Regions from separate parts of the Homo sapiens genome. Here region 1 is linked to region 2. The links come from fine-mapping of genetic effects on gene expression. Tissue or cell type: sun-exposed skin. Region 2 holds a variant in brackets; the other region holds the start of a gene. All regions are shown on one strand. Distances are between the middles of the regions.

What was found. PIP is the estimated chance that this variant, and not a neighbour inherited with it, causes the effect.
Region 1: it holds the start of SLC13A4, and the variant in region 2 is fine-mapped to the expression of SLC13A4 in sun-exposed skin (GTEx, PIP above 0.99). The same link has a PIP of 0.9 or more in unexposed skin.

The regions. Positions count from the first base shown.
Region 1 is chr7:135,724,259-135,732,362 of GRCh38, reverse strand. SLC13A4 (solute carrier family 13 member 4) reads left to right here and starts at 4,177. Exons shown (of 16, transcript NM_001318192.2): 1 at 4,177-4,965. The coding sequence starts at 4,867. It overlaps FAM180A (family with sequence similarity 180 member A), which reads left to right. Exons shown (of 4, transcript NM_205855.4): 4 at 2,082-2,771.
Region 2 is chr7:135,702,783-135,710,886 of GRCh38, reverse strand. It overlaps SLC13A4 (solute carrier family 13 member 4), which reads left to right. Exons shown (of 16, transcript NM_001318192.2): 3 at 2,637-2,773; 4 at 4,587-4,759; 5 at 5,237-5,291; 6 at 8,003-8,042. It overlaps LOC105375521 (a long non-coding RNA gene), which reads right to left. Exons shown (of 5, transcript XR_928021.3): 4 at 4,415-8,104; 5 at 2,291-3,852. Among named protein-coding and RNA genes, the nearest start is that of SLC13A4, 21 kb to the left of the region's middle. RefSeq lists an enhancer at 6,492-6,786. The variant T/C (reference allele first, on the strand shown) is at 4,068.

The DNA.
Region 1 (8,104 bases), 21 kb before region 2:
TAAGACTTCTACCTATGAAGTTCCTACAATCCTTTAACTGTGAGATGCCACAAGGAGAGCACCTGGATCTAAGAAGTCAGCTCAACTGTTTGTACCAACCCTGAGAGGTCCCAGACTGCTCATTCTGTGTTCAGTTCTGAGTTTCCCTGCTGCCTCCCTCACTGTCAGGCTATTAGAGCATATTTTTCTTTGTTACCAATGTAACTTGCCCTTCACAGTCTGTTCTTTCTTAGCTGGCCATTGCCTACAAACTACGATAGCCAGGTTTGTTATAATTCTATGTTAAATAAGAGTTAATAGATGAAGTCCTCTGCTAGGGGTCGAGCGTCTGGGTCCTAATAAGGATTCCTCATTAGCTCAGAGATCTTTCTGTCTTCTCCTAAGTTTACAGCTGAGCTCAGCAAGCAAAAGCTGCAACAAGTCTGATCTTTGAATGAGTGAGGATTTATTGGGCTAAATTTGATTCTGAAATGGGTATTTAACAGTTGTCATTTGATAATGATGAGGTCTGGACTCCTTCAAAATCTTTGAGCAAATAAGCTTTGCATAGCAGTGCTAGCCGCATGATCTTTTTGGAGAAATACTAGGACACTGGAAGAAGGTATTCATCATCAGAGAAAAACACAGCTTTGCATCCTGATATTCTCAGGCTCAGAAGATTAGTAAGTCTCAGTTTCTCTTTCTCATTCCCTGACCATTCTGCTCTTTTACCTCCTCCAAATGCAGATTCTGATATATGCTTTTTTTGTTCAATCTTTCTTTTTCTAAATGTACATATTCTCTCTGACATGGTCACTCTGCTTGTCTCTGTCTTTCTTTCTTTTATTTTAGTTGGTATCTCTGCTGCTGTATATTTGGGCCCAATTCCAAATATCTCTGTATCTGTTTTTTGATGCATCTCCAAGACTCTTCTGCTTGACTTTTGCTCTATCTCTGCTGACCCACACTCTAACACTCACTGTCTGTCAGTCTTCTCTGGGTATCATTGTCTAAGTAAAACACAAGTCAGTGTACAGACAGCGTTGGGATCGGCCAGAGGCAGATAAACATGGTAGCCTATCTTCACAGTTTGTACTTTTCCTAGATGTCAGATGGGGAGTGGATTAGCAATGGCCTCAGTCCCTAGACACTGTGCAATACCCTGATAGTCAGTCTTGTATCCCGCCCCGAGGCTCCACTCCCTTGACAATGGATCTGAAAGCTTTCTTGTACTCAGAATCATCAGATGGAAAGGCCCACCCTTGTAGTCCCTGACCACCATGTTATGTAGATGGCTGCTCCCAGTAGTAAGAAATCCATGAATGGGAAGATGGTTCCCAGGAACATTCACCCAGCAACAAAAAAATTAAACACAAATTGGGGCTTGAATTTTTGTGGCAATCAATGACTGAAAAAAAAATAGAAAAAAGAAGGACATGACCTTTTTAAAGACAAATGAAGACTCATTTTCAGTAACTAGAGTCTTAAAAACTATTTTAATCTGAATGCAGATCATTGTTTACCCACAGAGAGTTTTATGACAATGATTTCACTGACATGCAGAATCAAATATTATGATCACCACCAGCAGCCAAAAAACCCTATTCTTTGCCCAAGGAGTAGTAGAAATGTAGACTAGACAGACAAACAGGGTCTCCTATTTTGCCTCATTAGTGCCACACTCTATACAACTACAGTCACGAAGGGGTCACATTTGGTTATAATTACTATTAGAATAATATGGGAGTGTGATGTTTGTGGTGGAAACTTGCCCATGACTTATGTAACCATTTCTGCTGACAAATTTTAGGATCTAAAAACTTTGTGGGTTTTTTTGTTTTGTTTTTGTTTGTTTGTTTTTGGGACAGTCTCGCTCTGTCACCCAGGCTGGAGTGCAGTGGCACCTCCGCCTACAGTGTTCAAACGATTCTCCCACCTCAGCCTCCCAAGTAGCTGGGACCACAGGCACACGTCACCATGCCCTGCTAATTTTTTTGTATTTTTAGCAGAGATGGGGTTTCACCATGTTGGCCAGGCTGGTCTCAAACTCCTGACCTCAAGTGGTCCACCTGCCTCAGCCTCCCAAAATGCTAGGATTACAGGCGTGAGCCACCGTGCCTGGCCCAGGATCTAAAAACTTTCTAAGTTTCCTCCATCGTTGGCATCCTCACAGCTATCTCCAATGTCACTCAAGAGACATCAACAGACATTTAACTGCTGCAGACTTCATTGCTCTGTCACCTCACCTTGAATCTAACAAATCAAAGTATTTCTGCAGGTCCAATGGTCTAAAATCAAATGCTTGTTAAATGACTTTTTACAACACCCCTTACTTTCCTAATCCATTTCAATCTTATTTTTTTTATTGTGGTAAAAAACACATCAGGTAAAATGTACCATCTTAACCATTTTTAAGCATATGGTACAGCAGTGTTAACTCCATGCATGTTGTGAAACAGACCCCCGGAACTTTCTCATCTTGTAATTCTGAAGTTCTATACCCACCGAACAACTCCTCTTTTCCCCTTCCCCCTGCCTGCCCCAGCTCTTGGCACCATTATTCTGCTTTCTGTTTTTGAGAGTCTGACTACTTAAGATACCTCATACAAGCGGGATCTGGCTTACATTTCTTGAGCATTGTATTCTGGAAAAGTGTTTCCTTCCTCTGAAAAATGGGTAGAGTTCTGAAGGAGAACTACTGGTCTTATTGTACACTTGCTGTACCTATTTTTATTTAACAAATATTCATCTATGGTATAATAAAGATGTCATGATTGAGTTGCTCACTGGAATCTTTGTTATCTCAGAGTATCTCACCGAGGAATTTGGAATGGTTCATGGGTTTAACAGTGGATGTTGACTTCCACAGCTGCTTATAATTATTCGCTGTCTTTAATGTTTGCGACCAAAACATCACACACGTGGTATTGTTCATTCTGAGTTTCAAAATCATAACCAAAAAAAAATGAGGCCAGAATGTAGTAAATACAGTAGCCAGTCTTTAACATGCATTTAAAGAGTTGAGTCATCCTAGCCCATCCTACGATGGCAAGATAATTTCAAAGGGGACCTCAGCTGTCCACAGTTGCACCTGCCTTAAAAGTCAAGAAGAATTTGTTTTTTGGGTCACTTCCCTGGTCACTTTAGCCTGGGGATCATTTCCAAGTAGTATAGTTGCAGATCTTCGAACGCCATTCCTGTGTTCTGTGAATTCAAGACAACATGGGTTTTATAACCCTTTGACTCTGCTCAGCATCTCCCAGATCAAGGTAAGGTAATGTTGCCAAGAACCACTACTTACAGAATGTTTGGGCTTTTGCTTTTGCTTTTCTTCCTTGCCCCAAATCCACATGTCCGTTCTGAGAAAAGAAGCTAACAACTTCTTCCAATCTGTAAACAGGAGAAATTCCAGAGTTCAACTGCAGCTAAGACCTTGTCCCTGAACTTGTCAACTTCTTCCCTGCCCTCCCACCTCCTCCTTTCGTACCAGCCAAAGAAGGTCTTCGGTTTCCTTTTTGGAGAGCCCCAGAGAGAAGCATTTGAGCACCTACTTTAGCCAGAGAGACCACTGACATCTGGGCATGAGACTGGCATCTAGACTTTGCCAGGGAGGCAGCTATACTTCCCAAAAGATCTGGGGTCTTTCTCACGAGCTCATACCCTCTGCTGGCCTAGACCCTTTATATTCCCCCCTCGGTGCTGAGGCAAACGATCTTTGCCAGCAGGGAGGTCTGAAAGGCTTAACTTTGTACACTCTGAGGCAAATTCTCCAGAAGTAATGTTGCATTTTCTCCCTGCCACCAGGCACATTCCCTTCCCAAGGTCTAGATCAGCAGGTGGCCCTCCCAGCGAAAGCTCTGTGTCCTATGATCCGAAACAATAAAGCTGTGCTTGGGTACGTGAGATTATGTTTACGATGATGGTCATCACTCCAGCCCTAGGAAGTTTGAGAAACTGAAAAATAAGCTTAGCAGGCTGCCTAGGTTCTGCGGAATCAGCAGGCCCCCGCTGTGACCAATCAAGAGCGGCCGCGGGGAGAGAAATTGACTCATTCTTTTCAATTTGCTGATTGGCTTTGAGAAGTGGGCGGAGCTACTGTCTCTGTCCCGGCTTCCCATTGGTGGATGAAAGTTAAAGGTGGGCCTCCAGCAAGTTTTGTCCTTTGATAAAAAGGAATGTCTTGGGGACTTTTCTTTTCTGCTTTGCAGGCCCAGGCTCAAGGCAAATTATAAGTAGGGAACCAATTTGAGGGAAAGACATGTGAACAGAGTTAAGGTACCACGTCCTGGGAGCGACCAGCAGCCCCACCTGAAGTCCGCATGCAACTCTGACAAGCTCAGGTGCTTGTTTTAAGGAAAGGGGCTACTAGAGTCTTACCAACAGCGAGCCCAGGTGGGAGATGAAACAGGTACTCCCCAAAATAGGTCATCCGAGGGAGGAAAACTGATGGAGAGCACAATGTGCTCTGAGCGTTTTTAATGTTTTTAAGCTTTTAAATGATTTCTTCAAGGCCGAGCAGCAGCAGCAAAGGTGTGGCTTAAAGGATTAAGGGGGTTTCTGCTGACACCTAGAATGAAGTTACTCTATTACTAATCAAGCCGAGAGGAGGCCCACTATGCCCCCGTTTATCATCCTTTCCCAGTTCCTTTTTGCTGGTCACAAAACGATGCTCATCAATCCCACCTAAAGCAGGAGGCCAGGAGCCCAGCCTCTTGTAGAAACAGCGAGGGTATAACTGCCCTCCCGTTCTGCCCCCAAGACGAAGGAGGACTCTCGGAAGCCAAGAAAGGTTTAAGAAGTCTTTCTGGATAGAGAGCAGTGCCCAGGCAGGAAGCCTTTCGCCGGCAGAGCGGGGTCCAAGGACGAGCTGGAGAGGACAGAGGCGCGATGGGCCTGCTGCAGGGCCTGCTCCGAGTCCGGAAGCTGCTGCTGGTCGTCTGCGTCCCGCTCCTGCTGCTGCCTCTGCCCGTCCTCCACCCCAGCAGCGTGAGTACCGACCTGCGCCCACCGGGGGTCTGGGAGTCAGTGGGAGGGCAAAGAGGGGAGGTCGGTAGGGGAACATGGGGCGCTCAGGCAGTCCCTCAAAGTGGCTTGTGGTGGGTTTAAAGAAATGGAAGGATTTTTCCAGAGGAAACCAAGATATCTTCTTCCTAAAAGCTGTCATGTTCATCTCCTATCCCAGTCCCATTCCCCCAACCCCATGGCCCCCACCGGGGTCAGGACAGAGTAGGGGCCTTGGCAGAAGTGACTGATGGGTGTTGCACCAAGCAGCAGGCCAGCCTGCCCCAGCAGCGGGGGCCAGCGACACCCATGCAAACGACATGGTGCACCTGTGTTTGTCGGGAGTTCACCTGGGACCCTGGTTATCTGAGAGCCCCTGGAGACACAGAAAGAGCTCCCAATAGTGGCACTGAGGAGAAGGTTGGGGGAGGAAGAGAACCGTGGAGCCAATCCGTGGTCTGTGGTCGTGTCCTGGTGGGCTTCGATGACCACAGTTGAAGCTCTAATCCCGAAGGCGCCTATCAACTTCAGGGAATGAATGTTTAGGGAAGGAATGAAAGCAGAACTTAGCAGGCTGCCCTGCTCCCATGCACGTGGCCTTGAATTATTTGTGTCTTCTGTGTTTTCTTCTCTGTCCTCTTGAAGGACAGACAAAAAGTGACACGATAAAAAAGAGATAAGAGCCCCCAAACTCTAGCCCGTGACCTCATTCTTCACCTGGTTTGTGAGAACAGAGGAACCTCAGCTCTGGCTCAGCATCCAGCTTGCCTGTCACACCCTCCTGGTGGTCACCTGCTTCCCTTCCCTTCCCTCCGCTGTTCTCTTCCTCCTGTCTGTGGCTTGTCCCCTTCCCCCAGCTGGCACTGCCCTGGAGACTTTAGGAAAAATAAGCTAAAACAGGTTAATCACGTTTGTAGGAGGGGGAGCAATTCTTCCACTCTGCTCCTTAAGTAACTTGGTAACCAAGATTAAGTTAAACAGTTAAACAGAGGGGATTAGGATGGTTCTTCTTAAAAACAAACTGGCTTAAATCTTTCATAGAATAAATACTCCAGAGTGCCAGGGAGACGCTGATTAAAACTGGGCTGGGATTAGCAGACAGTGATTGCTGCTGACATTCTTCCTGGACTGTACCCTAGTCAATTTTCTGCTTTGTCCAAATGGGCCTGATTTTTTTTCTTTTTGTGGCTTTTCTTGTTTTTGTTTTTTCTCCATGTAGGTTGCTATAAGGGACTGTTACCGAGAGACATACTAGCCTCCTCTCCCAAGCAGTATCAGGAACCTCTCATATCTCCTGGTTGAGGCAGCCCCATCTTTGGGGACCTTGGCCACTGCCCACAGAAGGCACAGACTAGGTGCCCAGCAGGTAGAGTTTCATCCATCCGTCACCCCTTTCATCAAACTTTTTTTTGTAGACGCAGAGTCTCACTCTGTCACCCAGTCCGGAGTGCGGTGGCACAATCGTAGCTCACTGCAGCCTTGAGCTCCTGGGGTTAAGCAATCCTCGTGCCTCAGCCTCTGGAGTAGCTGGGACTACAGGCAAGCAAGTACCACCACATGCAGCTAATTTTTAAAAAAATTTTTTTTGTAGAAATGGGGGTTTCACTATGTTGCCCAGGCTGGTCTCAAACTCATGGTCTGACGTGATCCTCCCAAAGTGTTGAGATTACAGGTGTGAGCCACCGTGCCTGGCCTGCATCAAACTTTTAGAGTCTGATATTTAACCCTTAAAATTCCAAATGGATTTTCTTGCTCTGGACTGGAGTTGAGAGCAGTGATGGAGTACCTGGGCAGGAGCTCCTGGCCTGCAGTTTTGATGGTTCTAAGCGACAAGCCTCAGCTACATTTTAGGAGGAGTCAAAATGACCTTCCCCCTTTTTCTTGCCCAACTCTCTAAAACTAGAGGTCCAGACACTGTTTATCATGTTATAGAAGAAGAGGGTACAAGAGACAGCATCCATAACTAAGCCCTTCCTCAGTGCCCCCAGTGGGATAAAAGTTGCATCTCAACTGCCCAAGCTAAATTTTTTAAAAGGCGCCCCCAGTCATTGATGATAACAGATAACAGACTTCAACCTCCTTCCCGTGAAGTTGGAGTGGGATATCACTGGGGTGGTCAAACTGCGTGGAAAACGAGCAGTTCCACGCCTAAGTGAGTAGCTGACTAGGAAACGTCCTACATGGGGAAATGCCACTTTCGAACTCTTTCCTTTACTTGTAAACGGGAGCCAAAAAATAGTAGATAGCATGTCCCTTGAAGATATTGTCTGAACACTCACCAATGCCCAACCCCCACATACCTGCTATTATAAGGAACCAGTGGTGTTGTTAAAGAGCCTGGGGGTTGCAGAATATTCTCTCCAGAAGATGAGCGAGACCTGACAGCCAGCAGAGAAGTCCAGTGCAGTTCAGCCCACGTGAATTGAACCACCTGCTAGACATGGGATAGGCGTTGGGGACATCGGACTCCTTGTAAGCAAACTTTGCAGTATTTTTGGTTGTCTGAATACAAGCTTACCTCCTGAATTTTGGGAAGCTTTAGAAGGGGAAAAATGAAGTTTATGGAGATTCCATGGGTGAAATAAGTGGAAACTGTATGGAAAGACTCTCTAAAGGTGTCTCTTGTCCATTCTTCTACTCTAAGGAAAATCCAGGTAAAAAATGATAGTAATTAATCCTGTCCTTAATACAGCTGGGTGAAGGTGGCCTGATGACTTACTTCTTCCAGTAACCTAGTCGCATGTCTAACAATATTTACAACCAAAATGTTTGCTTTATTTTACCCACATTCTCCTAATTGAAAACTAAAGGCACCTGGCAGAGGGAAAGTCCTCTTTCTTTCTCTCTCTCTCCTTTCTTCTTTTTTTTTTTTTTTTTTTTTTCTGAGACAGAGTCTCACTCTGTCACTCAGGCTCTGGAGTGCAGTGGCACAACCTTGGCTCACTGCAACCTCTGCCTCCCGGGTTCAAGGGATTCTCCTGCCTCAGCCTCCAGAGCAGCTAGGATTACAGGCATGTGCCACCACACCTGGATGAATTTTTTGTATTTTTAATAGAGACAGGGTTTCGCCATGTTGGCCAGGCTGGTCTCGAACTCCTGACCTCAACTGATCCACCCACCTCGG
Region 2 (8,104 bases):
GTCCGCTGAGGAATGGGCTTAGAGACAAACACTGGGTTAACCAGAAGCAGGGGCTTTTCCCCCCAGGAAATGGTCACAGTGAGGGCAGATGTCCCTTCTCCTACACAACCCTCATCAACCAGATGCAATGAAATGTCCATAGGGCAAAAGAGAGAAAGGAGAGATGGAGCAGCCTGCCTTTATTTTGGTTTTGATGTTATCAAAGTGTTTCGTGCACAAAGTTTAAAAATCAAATACTTTAATACTGAACGCTTATAATGAAAAGTCAGCAGTCTCTTTCCTCATCCCTCCCACTTCCCCCCCTACCAAGTCCCACCCCACCCTCAGAGTCAATAACTTGTAACTTTGTTAACAGCTTCTTCTGTCATTAAGCTCCATTCCCATATGATATTCTTATATTAGTCCTTGAGTTCTCACTTTAAGCGGCTATCAGTTGACTTCTTGTTATAGCAGATGAAGATTTTTTCTTTTTGTTTTTTGTTTTCTTTTTTGAGACGTAGTCTCGCTCTGTCGCCCAGGCTGGAGTGCAGTGGCGCGATCTCGGCTTACTGCAAGCTCTGCCTCCCGGGAAGATTTTTTCTTTTACATCCCCCACTTCGCCTTCTACCATCCTCCCAATATGCTCAATCACAATTTTTGTTAATTCAATAATCAAAATTAGTATGATCATGTACATATTATTTCAAATGCTATGTATTTTACTATGTATTTCCTTTCCTGTTGAATTTTTATTTTTGCTGCAGTTAAAAATGTTCTTGTTTTCTCACTTTAAGAGGGTTTTTCAATTAGAAGTTAGACTTTTCTATAGCTTTTCCTCTCAATTTCTGTATGGTTCCTCCAGTTGGAAGCAATTCTCATGTATGTGACAAATATTTATTGAGCATCTACTTTTGCATATTATTCTACTAGGTGTTAAGATATATAGAAGGGAACCATTCACAGCCGAAAAATTTAGTTGAGAGACAAGAGAAGTACACATACAAAAATAAACAAACAACAGTACAATCAGGAAGCAATCATTCAAGCATTGCTCCAAGTGCTCTGTGGTGTGCGGAATTAATGGTGCCCAGGAGGAATATTCTGGAATCAGAGGCTAGGGCCACAAGAAAGGTTTTTTCTAGAGGATGCCAGGCCTGAACTGGGCTTCAAAGTCTGATTGGAATGTACAGGCAGAGATGGAAAGAGAGAATGTTCCAAGTGAGAGAATCAACAAAGATTTGGTCCATGAACCTCAAACATGCGAAACATCTTTTTAACTGCCCTATGTCTCAACTTCCCCATCATTAAATTAAAAAGTAGAAAGGAGTTTATAACTGGTACTGTGGCCACTAAGGAAGAGAAAATCCCTACTCGTAGAAAATATACCCTGAGCCTGGGAGGTTGAGGCTGCAGTGAGCTGTGATCATGCCACTGCACTCCAGCCTGGGTGACAGAGTGAGACCCTGTCTCAAATTTTTTTTTAAAAAAAAAAGAAAGAAAGGAAAATATACACTGAAGTATTTAGGGGTAAAGGACCAGCCAAAATGTGTGTAACTTACCCTCAAATGGTTCAGGGAAAAAAAAAAAGAGTGTATAGGTATTCCTTGTACTATTTTCATTTTTGGAATTCATTGGAACTTGAGAATTATTGGGAATTATTTAAATTTTTAAAATTAAGGCCGGGTGCGCTGGCTCATGCTTCTGATCCCCGCAATTTGGGAGGCCGAGGTAGGAGGATCACGAGGTCAGGAGATTGAGACCATCCTGGCTAACACAGTGAAACCCCATCTCTACTAAAAATACAAAAAAAATTAGCCAGGCATGGTGGCAGGCACCTGTGGTCCCAGCTACTCGGGAGGCTGAGGCAGGAGAATGGCGTGAACCCAGGAAGCGGAGTTTGCAGTGAGCCGAGATCGCACCACTGCACTCCAGCCTGGGCGACAGAGCGAGACTCCATCTCACAAAAAAAAAAAAAAAAAAAAAAAAAAAATTGAGCAAGACTCTGTCTCAAAGAAAAACAATAATGAGGATATGATGTTAAATGAAAAAAAGGCAAGATATAAAAGTATACATACTGTATAAATGCATTTATCTATATAGGTATAGGAAAAATGGAAGAAACTATAAGTATTTACAGTAGCATGATTAAGGGTAATTTTGTCTTTAACTTTTTTTATATTTTGAAGTTTTCCATACTGAGTATGTATTAATTTTCTAATAGAAATGAAATGAAAATAATTTTCTAATATTTTCTAAAAACATTAAAAATTAGGTTTGGGGAGAAACCTAGGGTTATTTTAAAAGATCAATATAAAATTATATGTGTTTATTCTTTAAAATCATATTCACATCATATTTAAATACAGTGGTTTTATGTTTTCCAAAGTGGAGAAGAACATCTATCCTATAGAGTTATGGGCCAGATTGAATGAAATAATCTGTCAAGTACTTAGCACAGTGCCTGCCCACAATGAACGCTCAGTAGATGTGACTCTAGGATGGGCGGCTATTTCAATAATCCTCACCCCCCTGCCTCCCCTTCGCCAGCCTCTTTGATTGAGAACAGGTTTTATTGGGTATGGCCCATTCTCCCAGCTGGTGCTGGGCCCTGGGTCTTTGGTCCGGGAGGGTGACTGACATGCCTGGCCTCCCTACAGGTGGCGGCGGAGTACTTCAAGAACACCACGCTGCTGCTGGTGGGGGTCATCTGCGTGGCGGCTGCCGTGGAGAAGTGGAACCTGCATAAGCGCATTGCTCTGCGCATGGTCTTGATGGCCGGAGCCAAGCCGGGCATGTAAGTCTTATTTGGGATGCCAGGACATAGGGCATCCTTCTAGCTCCCAGTGTGCCACCAGGACAGTGGTCTCAGGTCACTGCGGGATGTCCACTTCAGCTGTTTTTTTACCAAAGGGTCGGGCTGACACCAGAGCCATAGGACCCGTCCAGGGAGAGGGCCTGTGATCATGGAGTAGAGATTTAAACCTGTGACCTTGCTATCATTATCCAAAGAATTTACCCATTGACCTAGGCTGCAAGGGCAGCAGCTTACAACATATAGGGGCCCATCAGGTAAAACAGGATGGACCAAGAGAAATTGTTTCCCAACCTGTTTCCTGTGTATCAGGGAACAGGCTGGACCGGAAGTGGCTGTCTTCTCCTTTGTCACTGAAGGAGACGGGAATGTTTCCTCCCATCCACCCTGAGTTTTTGTCATCAGTTCAGACCACAGACCCAGTTAGAGACACTGCATTTGACTGTGATGCGGGAGGGAGTCCCACCCTCGGGGAATGTGTTACGGTGTCAAGGTTGAGTTTTGTGTTAGCTTCAGCAATGTTCCATTTGGATTCCCCTGCCTGTACCTTCCCTTTTGGAATATCCTGCTCACCTCCTTCTAGTTTACAACTTTCTTGCTGTATTTTATGTAAGCTGCCCTGACTCCTATGGGAGTCAACACGAGTATAAATAAATAATATAGTATTGGTTCTCAGTATGAGTCATTTAGATGACTATAGGTTATGCTTAAAAGCATGTTCCTGTCTCCCAGATTGTCAAACAGGTCTGATAACTACAGCTTAATCCACCCCCTAACTCAGTAATAATCTTGCCCCTACACTCAACCTCCCAGGCACACAGTGGCATTTCGTCACATCATATGGAGACTCTGTGGCTCTTTAAAATCTCTGTGTACTATCTGCAAGAATTTTTATCCTCTCACATTTCCACTCCTCCCTATTTACATCAGTCAGCAAGTTGCCACCCCCAGAGGCAGTTACCCGTGTAGGTACAGAATTGGCAAAGTCAAGTCGCTGTCAGCCAATGGAGTCCACATGATAAACGTACTGTCCCCAAGTTGTGCAAAGTCAGTGATTCCACCTAAAATAATAAACACAGTAGTCTTTATGTTGGCTTATCTTATGGAAACTAGGACATGTCTGTACAGGCACACATTGCACAACGTTCTCAAAGCCAAAGAGAAATAATTAGAGGGTTAACCTTGTTAGTGTTTTTCTCCAAGTGTTGACGCTTTAAGATGTCAGCTGGAAAAGTGCACACAGTGACACGGGACACTTCTGTGACTTTGGGGGCTA[T/C]GCCTTCAGCATGTTGACAGGTAGTGGGTGGAACTGTGAGCTCCAAACATTCATCTCTATTGGGTCACTGATATCTATGGTGACTTGGCGGCAAAGCAAGGAGTGCCGTGGCGCTCACAGAATTGCTGGCTGCGAGGGCAAACAAAGTATTGCCTTCCACACACAAACACACATCACCGCCAAGCTCCAGCCAATGTCCGTGGAGACAGAAAAACAATGGTAAGTCTACACCCTGTGGCCCTACTACCAGAGCTATTCTTTGCTTCACTAAGGACTTTTTTCTGGCTAAGGCCGCTAGTCCATGAAGTGTGATTCATTCATTCAAGAAGTATTGCTTTAATACTTACGCTGTGCCAAGCATTGGGAGTACAGAGCTGAATGGCACCCTGCAGGACAAATGCCTGCCTTTCCAGCCACAGCTGTCTAGACCAGCCCCAGCAGGTTGGTAGGAGGCCCACTGTGGAGCCGCAGGGATGTGTGTTCCGTGGACGCTCTGCCCCAACCCTCCCTGCCTTCCAGGCTGCTGCTCTGCTTCATGTGCTGTACCACGTTGCTGTCCATGTGGCTGTCCAACACCTCCACCACCGCCATGGTGATGCCCATCGTGGAGGCCGTGCTGCAGGAGCTGGTCAGTGCTGAGGACGAGCAGCTCGTGGCGGGCAACTCCAACACCGAAGAGGCCGAACCCATCAGTACAGTTTGCTGGAGTTCATCTCTCCTTTGCTCCTCCAACCTCCCCTGGGGTCCTCCTGCCTGGCTCCTCTAGGGAGACTGCCCAACTTTGTGCCCACCCCAGGACCCCCTCAGCCATGCCCCCACATTCCCCTTCCTCTTCCCTCTCTCCTCTTTCCCATCCCAGCTCTTGGACTCTGAAGCTTCCCTGAACTCCCTGTTCTGGCTCTTCCTTCCTCCTTCACTTCTGGGCTCTTTTCCCCCAAATGCTCAAGGGTACACACTGCTCTTTGCCCCCAAATGCTCAAGGATCACTGCAAAACCCTGGGGCCAGTCTGCATCCATGAGCCCCATTCTATTTACAGAGCAAAGGGAAGGAGAAATGTCACCCACTCCATATGGCCCACCTCCGCCCTAAGCCCTTGAGCTATGCTCCAACCCACAGGGTCAGCCCCAGCCTCCACCTCTCACATACTGCTTTTCTTTGCTACTCATAGGTCTGGATGTAAAGAACAGCCAACCTTCTCTGGAACTCATCTTTGTCAATGAAGAGTGAGTATGACTGCCCTCTCCCAGACAGCGCCTCTCAGAGTCCATAGGGGAGGTCAGAAAAGAGGGGACCTAGACCCATAAACAGCTCTTTGAGATGTACCACCCAAGCTCACCACCTTGCCACACCACCCCCCCACCCCGCCCAACCTCCCCCATTTCCTCTCCATACCTAGGAGTGACCTGTCAGGACCTGGAGAGTCACTCCCTTAACCACAGTGTTGCAGTGATGAGGAAGAAATAAAAAGGCCACACTGAATCTCAGTGGATATATGAACTGTCCACACAGCCACCATGCAGAATCTCTTCTAAATTCATGTCCCTTTTAGGAAAATAGTATGTTTAATTTGTTAACGGAAAACCGTTCACATCTCGATGCCACTGCAGATTCTTGGAGAATCATGAAATATTTTCTAGATATTAGATAAGGTCTTGGTAGATTTGGTCTTGTTAGATATGGCAAAGAAAACTTAGGTGACAGGTAGGGGATGAGGGGACAGGAGGTGAGAGGGCCTTGTGATGATGGGAAGCAGAGCTGGAAAAGGAGAAGCAGCCTCAGACATTCCTGGAGGAAGCTCTATTAACAGCTGATTCCATTTGGAGATTCTATTTCAAAATGTGGCCCACAGGCATGCCACAATGAATAGTCCACATTTAAAAGCTGGATTTGTAATACAGCTCAGCTCTGTCATTTGCCCTTGTTGTAAAAAAGGAGAACGCACATTGGGTGAAATCAGCGTTCACAGTGGGACAGACGTGGAAGGGTGCCATCAGGAAATCGCTTTATTTTTCTCCACCACTATCTTCAATCATAGCATATTGGATTTCTTGATGACATCACCCTTGATGATATCCCAGGCAAATCCCGTAGCTCTCCTGGTTCCTTTCAGGTATTATAACAATCTCATGTTCAGACATTTGGGAGACTAGTCCAAATTCAAATCAAAACTTCAACTTCTCAGCCAAAGCTTCTCCCATACCCACCCACCCCTCACCCTAGGCCTGCAGAAGAAAGAAGGTGAAAGTAAGTCGGGGGAGGGAGTTGAGCTTCTTTCTGTCTTCCTCCACCTCCCTCTTCTCCTCCTCCCCTAACCGCACCCTCACTCTGCTGCTTCTGACTTTTCTGGGCTTAGGACAGCAGCTCTAGGGTACAGGAAAGATAAATGGGTGAGAAGGGTCTGGATGGGGGCTATTGAGGTCTGGGGTTGGTGCCCTCTCTGAGATTTCAGTCCCTGGCTCTTTCATCTGTGGGGCAACTGCCTTCAGGGTCTTTGGAGCATCCCATTATGGCGCCCTCTGCAGGGCCTCAGGCCTGATGGCAGGGCCTTGCTCTGGGATTAACACTCACGCCACCCTCCAGGGCCTGTGCTCTGGTGGTTAACTCCCCCACAACCCCTGTATTGGGGCTGCCTCTGCCTCTGGGCAGGCCTGTCCCAGGTGACCCAGGAAAAGGCCATCCTCACTGTGGCCTTTTCTCCTCCCTGTGGCCTCTCTGGCATCACCCTACTGGCTTCTTGCCTTTGCTCTTTTCCACACAAAAATGTATCCCCAAACTCCAAAAGAAAAGCCTGAGTTGTCCCTAGAACTCTAAGCATCTTTTGTGCTGGTGGGAACTGGGTCATTTGCTGGGTGTGCAGACAGCACTCTTGCGGCCACCACCTCCCATGCTACCTGAGGATCCTCGCCTACCCTCCTCACCCAGTTTGGGAAGAAGGGAAGGGAAACATCACAGCACATTCTCCTCCCAGGCTAAGAACTCACTCCAAAGAACACTTCCCTCTGCACGCCTGTCAGCTTCTTATCCTTCCCTGACAGAGCCTGAAGAGGGACCATGGCCGCAGGACCCACATCCCGCATGTGTGTGCCCAATACGCTCTCTGTCTTCACAGTGGCTGAGCTGGTGGCTCCCACTGTCCTCGCAACTAAGACAAACTGGAAACATTCACTGATCACTCAGTGTGTCAGTTACACTGATGGCTAAGTTCTCATCTTCTTCTGTCCTCAAGGCAAAGGTTGGGGACCAGCAGGGGTGGGAGAGACTCACCCCCTGAGGTGTACTTGCTGATCAGAAGTCCTCCCCCTCCGCCACCCTCTCCCTCTCCCTTGACTTTCCCTGAGTACAATCCAGGCCCTCCCTGCTCCTGTCACCTCCGATACGCATATCACAAGTTCCCCTTTCTAGATAGTGGTCTTCCCAGAGTCAGTCAGTGAGAACATGAGAGTCAGCCAGTGAGAACATGAGAGTCAGCCAGTGAGAACATGGTCAGGGGGCATAGGCTTTCCAGAGAGACAGACTCCTGGACTCCTACCCTCCTCTGCCACTTAGCATCCCCGTGCTAAGTACTGGTGTAAATGGAGGTATGAATGCCAGGACCATAGATCTGTGATGAGGATTAACAATGTCTGGGGGTTAAAGCCCATATATGTGCACTCTGTATCTAATATCCACTCCACATCTGCTGTTAGGACGATTGTTAATATCAAAGGAAAGTGCTGCCCCTGCCCTCAGAAGGAAGCAGGCCCCTGGCCCCACTAATCCTTACAGCATCTCAGAAGGCAAGGAAGACAAGGGAGAGATTAGTCTTCTCTGGAGACTAGAAAACTGGAATCCAGAGAGTTTAAGTCCCTTACACCAAACGCCTGATGCAGGGGGACCTCCCCTCCCAAGAGTCGGCCTCACTGACGTGGCTCCTGTGTCCTCTGCTTGGTTCCAGCAGGTCCAACGCAGACCTCACCACTCTGATGCACAACGAGGTATGGCCTTGGGGTTTTTCTGTGCTTTGGAATCACTTGAAAATCCCTCAGCACTTCTTCAT